Linked DNA regions of Homo sapiens. The protein of the gene in region 3 purifies or fractionates together with the protein of the main gene of each other region. This does not show direct contact. Each region holds a gene or a part of one and is shown on either strand. Other genes may lie near its edges.

Region 1 (5,229 bases), on a different chromosome or scaffold from region 3:
GCGGAGGTTGCAGTGAGCCAAGAACGCGCCATTGCACTCCAGCCTGGGCGACAAGAGTGAAACTGTCTGAAAAAATAAATAAAAATAAAAAATAAATAAAAAGACCTCTCTGAGCTTTGTCACTCAAAGTGTGGTCCACAGACCAGCAGCATCAGTCACACCTACTGTGTCAGAAGACTCGGGTGACTCACACACATTTCAGTCTGAGAAGCGCTGATTAGAGGGCAGTGTTCGGGACAGATGAGTGCAGGGGGAATTGCTAGGGGTTCGTAAAAGAGCTCTCTTTTTCTTCCAGCGGTGAAGCACTATGAGGACTGTAATTCTAATGGAGGCGTCTCTCATGTCTACACATCTATGTTTCTGTATCGTCTCTGCTGTTTTGCTTTATCGTGAAGTGTGGGGCATTTCGGCCATGTGCCCCCCTGAGTGGCATGGTTGTCTACCCTAGAGAAAGGGAAACTGAACACATGTTCCTGAGATCCCGGTGTTGTTATTTCCTCCAGCCTCCTTTCTCCTTCACAGTGTACTGAGCACAGTTAGTACAGTGCCATGAGCAGTTCTGTTAGTAGCTACCTTTGAGATCTCTCTCCCTGCCCTACTAACCCTGTGGCTCAAACAGAGTTATATGGTCACTGTTACACTATTCCATAATGATTTGTTTTCTTGCTGGTCTCTGTAGTAGAAACTGACCCTTTTGGGGCAGGGACCCTATCTTTCTTATTTCTGTACCAACATAGCCTTGGATCATGCCTAGTCCAAATAAGCATTTAATAAAGGCTTTTTGGTTGAAGAATGAATGAATGGATGGATGAATGAATGGAATTTAACCATTCAAACACTACTCTGATCCAAAAGGAGAACTTGATTTATAATTTGTCTTAATGTATCATTTGGCTATTTCTGTGTAATAAATCACCCCAAAATTTAGTGGTTTCAGATTCTCAGTTCTTAAGATCTGATCCCTGGACAGAAGCATCACCTGGGAACTTGCTAGAAATGCAAATTGTTGGGCCCCGTCACAGACCAGCTGGATTCAGAACTCTAGGGTGGGCTTAACAGTCTCTGTTTTAACAAGCCCTCATGGTGATTCCATGCTGGTTCAAGTTTGAAAGCACTGGATTAAAACGGTAGCCATTTATTTAGCTCATGATTCTGTAGTTTGGCAATTTAGGCTGCAGTCAGCTGGGTGGTTCTGGTCTCAGCTGAACTCCTTCAAGTTTGTCATCAGCTGTTTATCACCTTTGCTGGTCTTGTCTGGCTCTCTCACTTTGGGACTTCAGCTAGGACACTGAGCTGATCTGGCTCTCTTCTGCATGGGCTCCTGTTTTCCTGCAGGCTAGCCTTGAGCAGAATCCTGAGAGAATGGAAGCGTGCAAGGTATCTTGATGCCTAGCCTTGGAAATGGCACATCATCACTTCTGCATTGTCTTGTGTAGCAACTCACAAAGGTAGCTCAGATTCAAGGAGTGGAGAATTAGATTTCATCTCTTGATGGGAGGAGCTACAAAGTCTCATTGCAAAGATGTGTGTTATTAATTGGGAGTCATTGGATAACCCCTCTCAGGAAGAACCTTAAGAAGGTACTGTTTTGGGGTAGGACAGGGCACTCTGTTTCTTTCCCATCTACCTAGTAGGGGATAGATACTGCTTTCTTCTATAATATTCGGGCTAGGAAAAAATCCAAGAGTAGCTTAGGGTCCCCCCGTGATGTGAAGGGGAATTAGAGTGGAAGAGGTCATGGGAAAGTCTTGAGCTAGAGAGAGTACAAGTCCTTAATTCATCCTCTCCCAGGAACAAAGGGGAACTTCAAGGGGAGTGGACCCCAAATTGATTGTCTTGGCTTTCTCTGCCTTTTAAATACCTTTGGCTCAAAGAAACCACAAAATATGAGATGGCTGTTTCTCTCTTTGAGTCAGGGATTCAGACACAGGCTCTGGGAACATGACTTCAGCTTCGTGGAGCCAGGCCCTGCCTGGAAGCAGAATCTTTGTCCGTGGACATGGTGCCTAGGACAGCAGAAGACATTCCGGATGGGGTGTGATAGCTTCCTGGTTTGGACTTGGCAGAAGGCAATCCCCTGTGAGCAGTCCTCAGGAGCACTGGCAACACAGCAGTGCCATTGGCTCCCACCTGCCCAGGGTCACAGCTTGCCCACCCTTTAGGTATTTTTTTATTTTTATTTTTTTGAGACAGAGTCTCACTCTGTCGCCCAGGCTGGAGTGCAATGGCACCATCTTGGTTCACTGCAATCTCTGCCTCCCGGGTTCAAGCAATTCTCCTGCCTTAGCCTACCAAGTAGCTGGAGACTACATGCGTGTGCCACCATGCCCAGCTAGTTTTTGTGTTTTAGGAGAGACTAGTTTTGCCACATTGGCCAGGCCTGTCTCGACCTCTTGACCTCAAGTGATCCGCCCGCCTCGGCCTCCCAAAGTGCTGGGATTTACAGGTGTGAGCCACCACACCCAGCCCCATCCTCTAGTTATGATGATACTTTCTAAAGCTGAGAGTTGGGCCTGTGAATTATCTTATTGAGAGACAGAGCTTCACGGGATCTTAGAGGTTGGCACAGACGTTTACTAGCCCTGGTCAGATGCTAAGGCTCTGATGCCTCCTTAGCCCCGGCGTTGGCTTTGAGGCCATGTAGAATCACTCTGATATTCTTATTCACATCAACCTTTTGTTTTAATGTATTTGAAGATACCATGGTCTCTTTTAAATATTTTTTTCCCCGGGCCATGAACTTCACAGGTCTCTGTTTTTTATATAGGATAATAACACAATATTTGTAGAATAGTTTGGTTTGTAAAGCTCTTTGTAGAGCAGCTTTCACACATGGCTCACCAATTACCTCATTTGGTGCCCCTCACACTGGAGGCATGGTAGGAATTGGTGTCCTTATTACACAGAGGAGGAGAGCAAGGCTGGTGGTGGTGAAGTCACTCAGCCAGAGAAGCCAGAGTGTAACCTATTTCCTGGTACCAGGCTTTCTCTCCTGTTATATAGAACATCTTCCTGTCTCTGACCTCAGGGCGTCTCTCTTACCCTGGAGTCTCTACTTCCCATCCCCCATCCACACAACCCAGAATACACCCCTGTGGCTGGATGTGGCATTATTGGCTGTGAGTTGTCTGGCTGCTGCACAGTGTGCACAGACTCCCTCATACGGAGACTCACAGGACAGTCTGAAATGCTCATTTTTTTCAGTGGCCAGTCACAGTATTGGCACGTATCAAGCTTAGGGCCTGCTCAGCAAAGCACATGGCACCAATAATATTAGCCCTATTTTTATTATAAGCATCACTAAAAATTGCCATGTACTGTAGTCAAGTCAGGTCACAGTACACATCTGGTGTAGAGCAAGAGGAAGACTGTGAAATTCCCTCTTCCCTAGATCCTTAAGTGTTAGTCTTGGAAAAGAATTCAGAGGTCATTTCATTTAGCTTCCTTGTCTATCTGGTGAGGAGACTGAGACCCAGAGGTCTTGAGCAGCTTTCCAGGAGCCTCACAGCAAGTTAGTAATTTGTGTGGTTAGGTCATTAAGTTAGAGGTTAAGTTGTGAAACTGGCAAATAGGGCTATATTCCTGTCCTTAAAGAATGAGAGTGAAAGAAGAGGAAAAAGGCCTCCTTTAATTTGTTTTCCTGTCCATTTATTTGCTTGTTTTGGTAAATTAGGAGAGAGAGAGAATCCAAGATTCTAAACAAATATGTCAAATTACCAGCACTGGGTTGAGTTTGAACTGTGACCTCACGTGGTTTTTTAAAAGACTACGTTCAGAGGCTGGGCTCAGTGGCGCACGCCTGTAATGCCAGCACTTTGGGAGGCCTAGGAGGGCAGATCACTTGAGGTCACGAGTTCAAAACCAGCCTGACCAACATGGCGAAACCCTGTCTGTACTAAAAATACAAAAATTAGCCAGGCGTGGTGGTGGGCACCTGTAATGCCAGCTACTTGGGGGGCTGAGGCAGGAGAATCACTTGAACCTGGGAGGCGGAGATTGCAGTGAGCCAAGATTGCACCACTGTACTCCAGCCTGGGCGACAGAGCAAGACTCCATCTCAAAAAAAATAAAAAATAAAAAAACTAAAGACTATGTTCAGGATACTGTATTGCTGAAATACAAATGATATTCATAATGCAGTTTTGGAGAAATTTCAGCCAAGGATGGAAGCCTGGGGAACACTGTGTTCGTCCAATCATACTGCTAGGTCCTTAAAAGCATGGGCCCTGTCTTCACTTCAGTTTGTAGCTCCAACACCCAGTACAATTGCCAACAGAGAGAGGGTACTCAGGAGGCATTTTCTGAGTGACCACATGCGCAGTGGAACACTGACTCAGTGATTCCTCTCTCTCCCCTGCCTGTCTCCATCTGTCTCCCCTTGCCCCTGCCATAGGGAAGTCTAAGCAATTTGGCCTTTTTGAAATGAAAATAGTGTCTCAGAATCCCCGCAAAGCCTCTGGGTTTTCAGGAGTGTCCACTGAAGTCCCCCCTTCCCCAGGACCTTTGTCATTTGAGACATGCTCTAACCTGGCACCAGTCTTGTGTCTTCTCTAGCCTCCCCTGACTGTCTGGCTTTTATGTCTGCACAGGAGCGTTCCTGGGTGCCTGTGTGGCTGGGTCTGATGAGCCTGGCCCAGAGGGCCTCACCTCCACCTCCCTGCTAGACCTCCTGCTGCCCACTGGCTTGGAGCCACTGGACTCAGAGGAGCCTAGTGAGACCATGGGCCTGGGAGCTGGGCTGGGAGCCCCTGGCTCAGGCTTCCCCAGCGAAGAGAATGAAGAGTCTCGGATTCTGCAGCCACCACAGTACTTCTGGGAAGAGGAGGAAGAGCTGAATGACTCAAGTCTGGACCTGGGACCCACTGCAGGTAGCTCTTCTTACCTACAGAGCATGTGTTGAGTGCCAGCCAAGTGTCTAGGCAAAACACCAGGTGACCATTTCCTTGCCAGAAGCATCTCTTCTCTCTCCCTACAGTTTTTACCATGCTGCTGCTGTTTACCTGCACATCAGAGCAAAGGCTCTGGGACCCTGAATGTCTCACAGGCCCAGGAGGCCCTTTCTCTTTAATACTAACCACTGTTTAGGGAGCCTTTATTCTGTGCTCATTTAATTCAATCTGATGCTTATAACCTGAGAGATAAGTAATATGACCCCCCTTGTAGACAAGAAAACACTGAGACTGAGAGGTTAAAAGCTGGCCTGAGGTCAAACAGCAGCTCAGATGCTCA
Region 2 (5,229 bases), on a different chromosome or scaffold from region 3:
CTTTTCTCCCTCTGTTCTTCAGATTGCATAATTTCTATTGATCTATCCAAGTTCTCTGATTGTTTTTTCTGTTAGATCTACTGTTGAGCTACTCTAATGAATTTTTATTTCAGTTACTATAGTTTTTAACTTCAGAATTTCTATGTGGTTCTTTTGATATATATATAATTTCTTTATTAATACTCTATGTGATGAAACATTGTCATCTTCTGTTACTTCCTTAAGTGTGACTTCTTTTAATTCTTTGAACATACTTACAATGGCTGCTTTGGAATTTTTGTGTATTAAAGCTAATGTCTGGGCCCTAACACAGGCAGTTTTTGTTGCTTGCCGGTTTTTTTTTTTTTTTTAAGCGTATGTCACATCTTCTTGTTTCTTTGCATTCCTCATTATTTCTTTTTCGAAAACTAGACATTTTAGGTAATACACTGTGGCAACTCTGGATACTGATTTCCCTCTACCACCACGGCTTGGTTTTTTTTTTTCCTTGTTTATTTATTTATTGACATGGCTGGACTATTTTAACAAATTATTTCTTCCTCCTTCCCCGACCTTTTGGCAATATGAAGCCTCTGCTGTTGCTCCTCAGGGCCTGTGCAGTTATCCTAGGATGGCATTGGATTTAGCAGGGCTCTCTTTATCTCTTTCCATGCCTCCATTGGTATCACTCCTATTAGACTCCACTGACTGTTCACTAATTGCTGTCTTGTTTTTGACAATGCTCTGGGGCATAAATTGCTCCATAATCTGTCCCTACTAAATTGGGCCCTTTTGCAGGGATAGTTTTTGCAGCAAGTCTTTGAGATTTGTTCAGACCCCAGGAGGTATATTCTTACTATCTCTCTCTGTGGTTCTCTCTAGTAAATTAGCTGGCCTACAGTTTAGCTGTTGCCCTCCTGGAGTTACCAGCCTCCTCTTAATTGCTTACTACCAAAATCTCCATTATTTTCAAGAGGCTGGAACTTCTCTAAACTCTGAACTTCTCTACATTCTATTTTAAATAAAGTCAGTTCCTTAGGGAAGAACTTTGGAGCACTTTGTTCTTATGGACTTCCTCTCCCCCGGGGGAAAAAATCCATGAGGTTTTGCCCTGAGGATGGGGACAGTGACACACTTATTAAGCAGAGTGACCACCTCTGCCCTATGAGCAGGACACTGGGTAGGGGCAGGAGGACCCCCAGTATTCTCAGCTGGCCACACCTGGAAGTGGAGCCTCCACCCTGTTGCTGTGGGCTGGGTGAAAAAGAGCTGCACCTGTTTAGAACTTAGACTCTTTATTTGGAGCTTCTGTTCCCTTGTTTCCTTTCTTCCTGGTATTCCCATTATACATATGTTACATCTTTTGTAGTTGTCCCACCGTTCTTAGATATTTTGTTCATTTTATTTTCAGTCTTTTTTTTTCTTTGATTTTCTGTTTTGGAAATTTTTATTGTCATATCCTCAAGCTCAGAGATTGTTTCTTAAGCTAAGTCCGGTCTACTAATGAACCCATCTAAGGCATTCATTTATTTCGCAGTGTTTTTGATCTCTAGCATTTTTTTAAATTCCTTAGATCCATCTCACTGCTTATGTTCCGCATCTTGTGTGTTATCTGCTCTTTCCATTAGAGCCCTTAGAGTATTATACATAGTTGTTTTAAATTCCCAGCCTGATAATTCCAACATCCCTGCTGTATCTGAATCTGGATCTGGTACATGCTCTGTCTGTTCATACTGTGTTTTTCTTAACTTTTAGTATACCTTGTCATGTTTTCTGTTGAAAGTTGGACTTGATATACTGCGTAAAAGGAACTGCAATAAATAGGCCTTTGATGATGTGGTGGTGAAGTGTGGAGGGAGCGGAAGTGTTCTGTAGTCCCATAAGTAAGTCTCAATCTCTTAGTGATCCTGTATCCCAGACTCTGAATTTCACACATGCTTCTCAGTCTCCCCTCCTCTCCTGGACAGGATGACTAGAAGGGGCTCTAGTTGGGTAGATTTCTTCCTCCAAGTCAGTTAGGCACTGATAAAACCCCAGCAGGTTAGGCTCTGGTTAAATAACTTCTCCTAAGGACAGGCTTTGTTAATAATGACAACATGCTGTGGCATACTTTAAAATGATTACCTTTTCCCCTTCCCCACTGCTGGACGCATTAAGAGATTTTTCTCTGATCTTCACCACTGAGGACCTAATAGAGCTCCTAGAGGTAAAACTCACATGAGTATGGGGGTCCCAATATGACCAGGTCCCCCTGGAGTTTTTAACACTCAGACTTACCTCCCCTGAGCCTCCAGCAATTTGTCGATTACAGTTAGGGTTTTCCTACCTGGGTACTGGTCCCCACAGAGATTTCTGCTCCAGTAAGTTGGAATTCTTTGTATCTGCCTATCTGTCTCACCAGTTTTGAGGGCAGTGGTTTACCCTGTGACCTCACTTCTCTGTGAGAGACCTAAGAGGAGTTGTTGCTTTTTCAGTGTTCAGCTTTTGACTTGTTAGGATGGAGTGATGACTTCTAGCTCCAGGCATGCCAGACCAGAAACTGAGAATGCCCCATTTGTTTTAAGTATATGTACCATCTCTAATATTCTAAGAGCTTATATCTACAAGGAAGAAAAGCTGATATGTATCAGACATAGCATTTAGTAAAGCTCTGATTGTTTAATACTTTTCAGAGATCCCCAGATTATTGTCCATCCTGTTAATGTGAAATTAAGTGGGATAGAATTATTTGACAGGAGCCGGGCATGGTGGCTCGAACTTGTGGTCCCACTTACTAAGGAGGCTAAGGCAGAAGGATCACTTGAGCCCAGGAGATGGAGGCTGCAGTGAGCTATGATTGCACCTCTGCACTCCAGCCTGGGCAACAGAGTGAGAACACATCTCTGAAAAATAAAAATTATTTGACAGGCCAGGCACGGTGGCTCACGCCTGTAATCCCAGCACTTTGGGAGGCCGAAGTGAGTGGATCATCTGAGGTCAGGAGTTCAAGCTTACGAAGATGACGGGATTAAGAGATTAAAGTAAAGACAGGCAATCACAAGGGTATTGATTGGGGAAGTGATAAATGTCCATGAAATCTTCACAATTTATGTTCAGAGATTGCAGTAAAGACAGGAGTAAGAAATTATAAAAGTATTAATTTGGGGAACTAATAAATGTCCATGAAATCTTCACAATTTATGTTCTTCTGCCATGGCTTCAGCCAGTCCCTCCATTCGGGGTCCCTGACTTCCTGCAGCAGCCCACTCCAGTTAGCCTTCTGCCCCATCACTCTATCAGAATTGTTCTGGGGAAGTTTATAAGTAACATTTATGCTGCCAGGTCCAGTCAGTTCTTCTTAAATTCTTCACTGAATAGCACACACTTGACAACTTCTTCCTCAAGACACTTTCTTCACGTGGCTACTACAATGGCACCTTTTCCAGAATTTTCTCCCTCACCTGGGGCCACTTCTCAATCTCATTTCCTGACTTAACTTTCTTTACCTCTATTTAACCTCTAGAAATTGGCATTTCTTAGTGTTTAGACCTAGGCCCTGTTTTCCTTCCAAATTCCTTCAGTAATTTCATTCATTCCTGTAGCTTTAAATAATCTATGGACCCATTCTCAAATTTATATCTCCAGCTTGGCCCTTTCTTCTTTTTCCACTCTGGGGAGTTTTTCTATAGCCCAGAAAAGCGTGTGTCTCAAAGGACAGAAAATGTGGCTGGTCGCAGTGGCTAATGCCTGCAATCCAGCACTTTGGGAAGCCAAGTGGGCGGAACACTTGAACCCAAAGTTCGAGACCAGCCTGGGCAACATGGTGATACCCCATCTCCACCAAAAAAAAAAAAAAAGCTGAGTATGGTGACATGCGCCTGTGGTCCCAGCTACTCGGGGCTGAGATGGGAGGATCGCCTGAGCCACGGAGGTCGATGCTGCAGTGAGCCATGATCACACCACTGCACTCCAGCCTGGGTGACAGAGTGAGACCCTGTCTCAAAAAAAAAAACAAAAAAAAAAAGAAAACATAAAAAGTTAATGGTGGTGAGATTATAGGTGACTTGTATTTTCTTCTCCTTTATTTGACTTTTTGTAGATTTTCTACAGGACTTTGAAATTTACAAAGTGTTCTTAAATATTTAACCCCATTTTGATACTGTCAACAACCAACCTTGAGCTCCTTGAGTCCAAGTGTCAGCTCAAAACTGGACTTCCGGTGACTGGGAGTCACTCCTCCATGCCAGGTGTCTCGTGCTACCTTTTTGCTGAACCATCCCATCCCTTTTGAAGCAGAACATTTAAAATTTTATATATATCCCTGTGCTCTGGCTAATAATAGGCAGTTATTTATAGTGTCAATTTTGATCTTACAGGTGGATTTGACATGGAAGTGAAAGGTTGGGGTGGAGAAGATGTTCATCTTTATCGAAAATACTTACATGGTGACCTCATTGTGATTCGGACTCCGGTTCCTGGTCTTTTCCACCTCTGGCATGAAAAGCGCTGTGCTGATGAGCTGACCCCCGAGCAGTACCGCATGTGCATCCAGTCTAAAGCCATGAATGAGGCCTCTCACTCCCACCTGGGAATGCTGGTCTTCAGGGAGGAAATAGAGACGCATCTTCATAAACAGGCATACAGGACAAACAGTGAAGCTGTTGGTTGAAATCATAATTAATGCGTTACTGTATGAACCACAAAACAGCACTATTTATTTAGCCTTACTTCTACTTCCAGATGCAGTGCCTCTTTTGGAGAAGACATGTTTATTTTTCATGTTCTTTCTGACATTACTTTAGCAATTCAACTTGATGTGAGAAGAAAAAACAAATGTTTCAACACAAAATCTCTGTTTTGTGAGAATACTGCACTATGGAATAATTGACAAATTGAAATCTCATATTTGTCCCAAAAGTTGTTTTGAGTTAGTTCTACCTGGTGCCCATGTTCTGATTGTGTGTGGGATTGCATGGTGTCCTGATTGCATCTAGGTGGAGCGGATGGAATGTGCTGGGCCACTGTTGGGTGGAGAGCAGCACATTCTTACAGAGGAGATGGAGCGTTATGAGCATAGTATGTGGATAGGTATCTTCACCTGCCCGCCCCTGAGTCAGCCTCCTTGACTTGATAGCTTGAAGAATCCTTTTCCACTGAAATAGAGGATAATTAATTGACACATCTGAAATCCCCAATCAATCAATCAAGAGAAAGGTAGAACTAAAAACTCCTTAACTTACTGTTGCTTACACCCCTGAAAGTCTGTTTTTA
Region 3 (5,229 bases):
GCTGGGGAAAAGGGCCCATGGGAGGATACTAACTGGGGAAGAGGAGACCTTGCTTCCAGGGCTGGGCGACCCACTTACGGAGGCCCCATTCCATTTACATCTCCGCTCAAGCCTCCGCCTCCGGGTTCCAGCCCTGGCTCTGCAATTTGCTAGCTGTGGCCCCAGGTGGTCATTCTCTCTGCACCTCAGTCTCTGCATCTCTATAAAATGGGATGATAATAGTGTTCACCTCAGAAGGTTGTCAGAGGTGTGGAAATTAAGATAATTCACATTGAGTTCTTGGCACGGCTGTGCCTAGCACTGGGTGCAGGCTGAATGCATGGGCTGCTATCGCGATGTTGTATCTAATGGCCTGCAGTGGTTGCTTAGCAGCAATGGGTTTGCTTGGTTATTTCCTGATTTGGGGTAAATAGATCCAGAGACCAAGGCTCCATGTTATCCCCAGCACCGGGCTGACCCCAAGTACCAGAGAGGTCTCCATGGCCCCAGGCTGCAGAGGACCCAGGTTACAACTTGCTCAAGTAGACCCAGGATCTAGGCTTATCCTAGTAGATCTTGGTACCAGGCCAGCCTCTGTGACCTGAGACTCCAAGACCACCATTGCAGACCCAGGCTCTAAGCTAGCCTCTGCAAACTCAGGATATATATTCCAAATATCCCTGATTTGGGGGGCAAGGTCTGTGTGTGATTTGCAGAGTAACGATATGAAGAAGGAGGTCTTGTTAAGATGGCGTGGTGTGGAGTGCCCAGGTGTGAAATGGTTGTCTCAATGGAAGTTGTAGCCTCCTCCTCCCATGACATCATCCTCACACGTGCTCAGTGTTAGGCATTTTTTCCCCCTCCTGCTCTGAATCAATGCGAGTGAGATATGCATGCGGGAGGGACAAGCTTGCATGGCACCCAGCTGTGGTACATTTAGAACTCGGCCTCAGCCCTCCAGTGTGACCTTGGGCATACCCTTCACCCCCGGGCTCTGTTCGCTGGGGCAGGGTCTGCGCTCTGGAGTCAGGCTGCCTGGGTTTGAATTTTACCTTCCTCGCCAAGTCCCTTGAGTGGCAAGTTACTTATCTTCTCATTGTCTCCGTTTTGTTATCTGAAGAATGGGACCATAGTAGTTCCCGCCTCATGGGATGATCATGTGGGTTAAATGAGAGGATGAGTATAAACTGCTCAACATCCCATGGTAGGTGCTCAGTAAATGCAGGTGCTTATGATTATAGTCAGTGTTTGGGCTGTGAATTTTGGTGGATTCTATGGTGGTGTATACAGCACTATCTATCAGTGTACCTGTCAGTGTCTGGTGATCTCTGTGCAAATCAAAAACTCTTCAGATTGAGTCTGTAGGGCTTTGTTTCAGCTCTTGTTCTTTTTCTTCATTTGAATCTTTCCTGGAACTCTTGGAGAAGTTCTTCTGTTCGTGACATTCTTCACAATCAGAGCACTGTGTTCTTGACCCTCTTAATTCAGAATATGTGAAAATCTGAATGAGGTAAAAGAAGTTGGAGCTGGAAGATGCCTTAGAAATTATCTACAGTATTTTTTTTTTTAAGATAAAACCTTTTACAGTTAGGAAAGCCAAAGCTCAGAAAAATGGAGTGACTTTGCCAGGTCCTTCAGCGAGTGGCACATCCAGGATTAAAAGCTGGCATCAGAAATCCCATGTCAGACATTCATTCGTTTATTTATTCATCTGTTGAGTGCTCAGTGCTTTGACCGGGCATCCTGAATGAGGGTCAAGCTGAGGTTCGAGGCCGTGGGTTTTGCATACAGAGCTTTCACTGGGTAAATACACAATGCTGAGAAGATTATCAGGGGCACCTGATCCCTTGACAGCTGAATAAAGAAGCGTTCCAGTGCCTTCTCTGTGGGCATCGTAAGCCATGTCCATCCATACCTGCTGTTTCACTGAAACCCCACAGCAGCCTCTGGAGGGCACCATTCTTATAATTATGCCCCTGGATTTAAGAGGAGGAAACTGAGGGGCAGGTGACTCAGTGACTTCCCCGGGGGCTCAGACGTGGTGGAGACACAGGCCCTCGGCCTCCAAATGCTGCCTCCCGCGAGCAGCCTTGCTTTTCTCCACTTGGCACAGTGGTGAGTCCTCCGATGTATCTGCTTTCATAGGAAGCTTGGGACCAGCCCTGCCCAAGGAGTGTGCCACCTGACCCCTTTTCCTGTCTTCTGTCACTTTTTTTTTTCCAAGTGTTGATATGAGTTTCAGTCTGCCCCTTCCTGGGCCTGTTTGACCTCCTGGGATTCGGCACTTAGTTATCTGTGTCATTCCCAAGGACCTCCCGTTTAGCTGGATCCCCTGACCTGTCCTGCCCTGGCCAGCCCTCTCTTGAGGTTACTCAAGTGTCCAATGGCAGCCCAAACAAATGTCTGGCTTCAGAAAATAAACTCTTCAGTCCAGCCCACTTTCCCTGTCTCCCTATCTAATGCCCTTGCAAAACAAGCCCGGGGGCGCCACACTCAGACTGTGTGTGTGTGTGTGTGTGTGTGTATCTATGAGAGAGAGAGAGACAGACAGACAGATCTGAGGCTCTAATTAGAGATACCATGCTCAGTGGAAGCTGGTTCTGAACAATGTTAACTGCCCCACCCGTGTCCATGAAGGGCAGTGGAAGAGCAAGGGGCGGTTTAATTACCTGGGATGTAAAACAGCAGGCACCCCCACTGCCCTCCTCAGCTGTTGGGGTGGCAGGGTGGAGTTGAGGGCCTCACTCGTTTTCACCTTTGCACAATCAGTCACACATTTGTTATATGACAGCTATGTGCCACACACCCATGTTCAGTAAGGTGGAAGCCAGCTGCAGGCGTGGTCCACAGTTCCAGACATCTCTGAAGGATGTGACACCAACTTTCAGGCAGAACATTTAGAAAGAGTGAAATAAAGTGAAACAGATCAACCAGCCTATTGAGTATCTACGTGTTTTTTTTACAGGCAAGAACTGAGGAGGCAATACTATTTAGAATCCTTGATAAACAGTTCCAAAAGAAAAAAAAAAACAGGCTTTGGTGACTCTCATGGGCCCTCCGTGCCAAGAGTCTATGGCTCTGTGATATATTAAATCAGGCTTGTTAATTATTTAATCTAACAGCTGCCATGCACCCTCATTTTAAAAACAGATGAGGCAATGTTTACATTTTCTCCATGTCCTCCATTTGGAAGTGTCTTAGTTTGTTTTGTGTTGCTGTAACAGAATACCACAGACTGGGCGATTTATAGACAATAGAAATTAATCTGGCTCATGGTTCTAGAGGCTAGGAAGTCCAAGAGCTTGGCACTGGCCTCTGGTGAGGGCCTTCATGCTGTGTCATTGTGGGCAAAAGAGCAAAACTTGCTTTGATAAAATCACTCTTGGCAATAACTGACCCTCCTCTTATAATAACATTAATTCATTCATGACAGCAGAACCCTCCTGACCCAGTCACCTCTTAAAAGGTCCCACCTCTCAACGCTGTTGCACTGGGGATTAAGTTTCCTTACACATGCACTTTGGGGGACACATTCAAACTGTAGCAGGAATTATTTGCTTTCTCATAACATTTTTTTAATTAATTAATTTTCAGCGTTTGTTATATCAGAATGGACATTATAGCAATTTCCATGGCTGTGTCGCTCCTGGCAGATTTTAAAGTTCTTCCAGCCTGATTCCTCTCTCTGTTTGGGTCTCTGGCATGGTGCCTGCTGGAGAGTAGATACTTGATAATTATCTATTGGGTTCTCAGGGGATCTCTCAAAGGTGGTATTCAGGCACCCACAAGGCAACTCCCATCACAAGAAAGAATGGTGGCCTGGGAGTGAGCTGTAAGGTTCCTTCAAACATCAGTTCCTGAAGCCTCTTTTATTCATTATTGTTGGGACTTGTTTTTATTTCTGTTTCGTTCTACGTGACCCCAAAATCTGTATGTGAACACTAGGAACTTTATCATGGGCTGAGGTGTATTTGAAGTAAACTCTTAACTATGTCTCTGGGATATGAAAGGTGCTTACATTCTCTGTTGGGAATGTAGAGAGAAGGATTTGCAGTGTGTGGCCCCTGGGAATGTAGAGGCATGAATTTCTGTCTGTTTTCCTGCTGTTGAAATCTGAGTGCTAGGAACGGACCTCTTGCTCTCAGATTGGCCTTGAAGCTGAAGGGAACCTGTCCACCCTCTGCACAGGGCAAGAGCCACGCCAACAGGAGGAAGTTGGAGTGCATCCTGGCACCTGCCAATCGGAAGACTGACAAACAAAAAATTAGTTTTTAATTAATTTAAAAAATGATCTTCCTACTTATCAGACACAATCACTTTTAAATATGAGCAGAAAAACGAACTCCATAGCCAAATGCAACATTTTGTGTCATACTGCTTTACATCATCTATTCTACCTCCATTCACTGGTCAAAGAAGCGCAGAGTTAAGTTGGCCAGTGTGGCGTGGACACAGCCAGGCGCAGACCCTCCTGCCAGCGAAGCCAGCGTGAGGTCTGTTGGCTCAGGGGTCCAGTCCCTGGGTCCCCGAAGAGGTAAGCCAAAGACATAGTGATACTTGGTTCAATTCGGCTCCAGAGAGTATCAGATGGGAAATAGATGACTTGTTTTACCTGGTCAAATAAGACATCACTAAAATCTACCATGACTGGAAATTACTTAATGCAACCAGAGGAGACTTCGCAGTCAAATTTTGCTTTTCCTAAAAGACACGAAATTAAATTTACATGTCACTGAATGCTATTTGAAACTGTCATTTCCTTGTATATTAGGGGGATCTGCTAGACTCTTATGTCATTGTATTTTGGAAATGGGTATATGTCCTTATTATTGGTTAATAATCATATTTATTTTTAATGAAAATTAAATTATGAAAATAATGCACTTAACTAGGTGAGTTTTAGGTTGTCGATTGATGTGATAATTCACTCTTCCCGAAAAATTGGCAAGGTAATGGTCTGAATCGGACAATCCTTTTGTTTTTACATTGATGTTTTCTATATTTATTTTGTACCTGGAAAAATATTTTTACAATTTATTTTGATTTTATATGTGTAGAAAAATGTACTGAACAATGTTGACATGCTTATTTTTGTAAGAGATGGGTACTTCTTGTTCCCCTTGGATTTCGGAAGCAAAGCAATGGGACCCTACGCTTCAGAGTCTTAATGGGGTGGGGCAGTGTCCATTGAGGTGTCCTGTCGGGAATGACAAGTCCAGGGCAGATTATGAGGCAGGCATCCTTTGGAGT

Evidence for each region.
Region 1: the proteins of B3GALT5 (region 3) and PODXL2 purify together in Homo sapiens (affinity purification with mass spectrometry; one large-scale study listed by BioGRID and IntAct). This does not show direct contact.
Region 2: the proteins of B3GALT5 (region 3) and CSGALNACT2 purify together in Homo sapiens (affinity purification with mass spectrometry; one large-scale study listed by BioGRID and IntAct). This does not show direct contact.

What each region holds. Positions count from the first base shown.
Region 1 is NC_000003.12:127,634,656-127,639,884, forward strand, and holds part of PODXL2 (podocalyxin-like protein 2 precursor), read left to right. Parts: intron 1-4,589; coding exon 4,590-4,868; intron 4,869-5,229. UniProt on the Homo sapiens protein: Acts as a ligand for vascular selectins. Mediates rapid rolling of leukocytes over vascular surfaces through high affinity divalent cation-dependent interactions with E-, P- and L-selectins.
Region 2 is NC_000010.11:43,178,916-43,184,144, forward strand, and holds part of CSGALNACT2 (chondroitin sulfate N-acetylgalactosaminyltransferase 2), read left to right. Parts: intron 1-4,334; coding exon 4,335-4,627; 3' UTR 4,628-5,229. UniProt on the Homo sapiens protein: Transfers 1,4-N-acetylgalactosamine (GalNAc) from UDP-GalNAc to the non-reducing end of glucuronic acid (GlcUA). Required for addition of the first GalNAc to the core tetrasaccharide linker and for elongation of chondroitin chains.
Region 3 is NC_000021.9:39,667,734-39,672,962, forward strand, and holds part of B3GALT5 (beta-1,3-galactosyltransferase 5), read left to right. Parts: 3' UTR 1-5,229. UniProt on the Homo sapiens protein: Catalyzes the transfer of Gal to GlcNAc-based acceptors with a preference for the core3 O-linked glycan GlcNAc(beta1,3)GalNAc structure. Can use glycolipid LC3Cer as an efficient acceptor.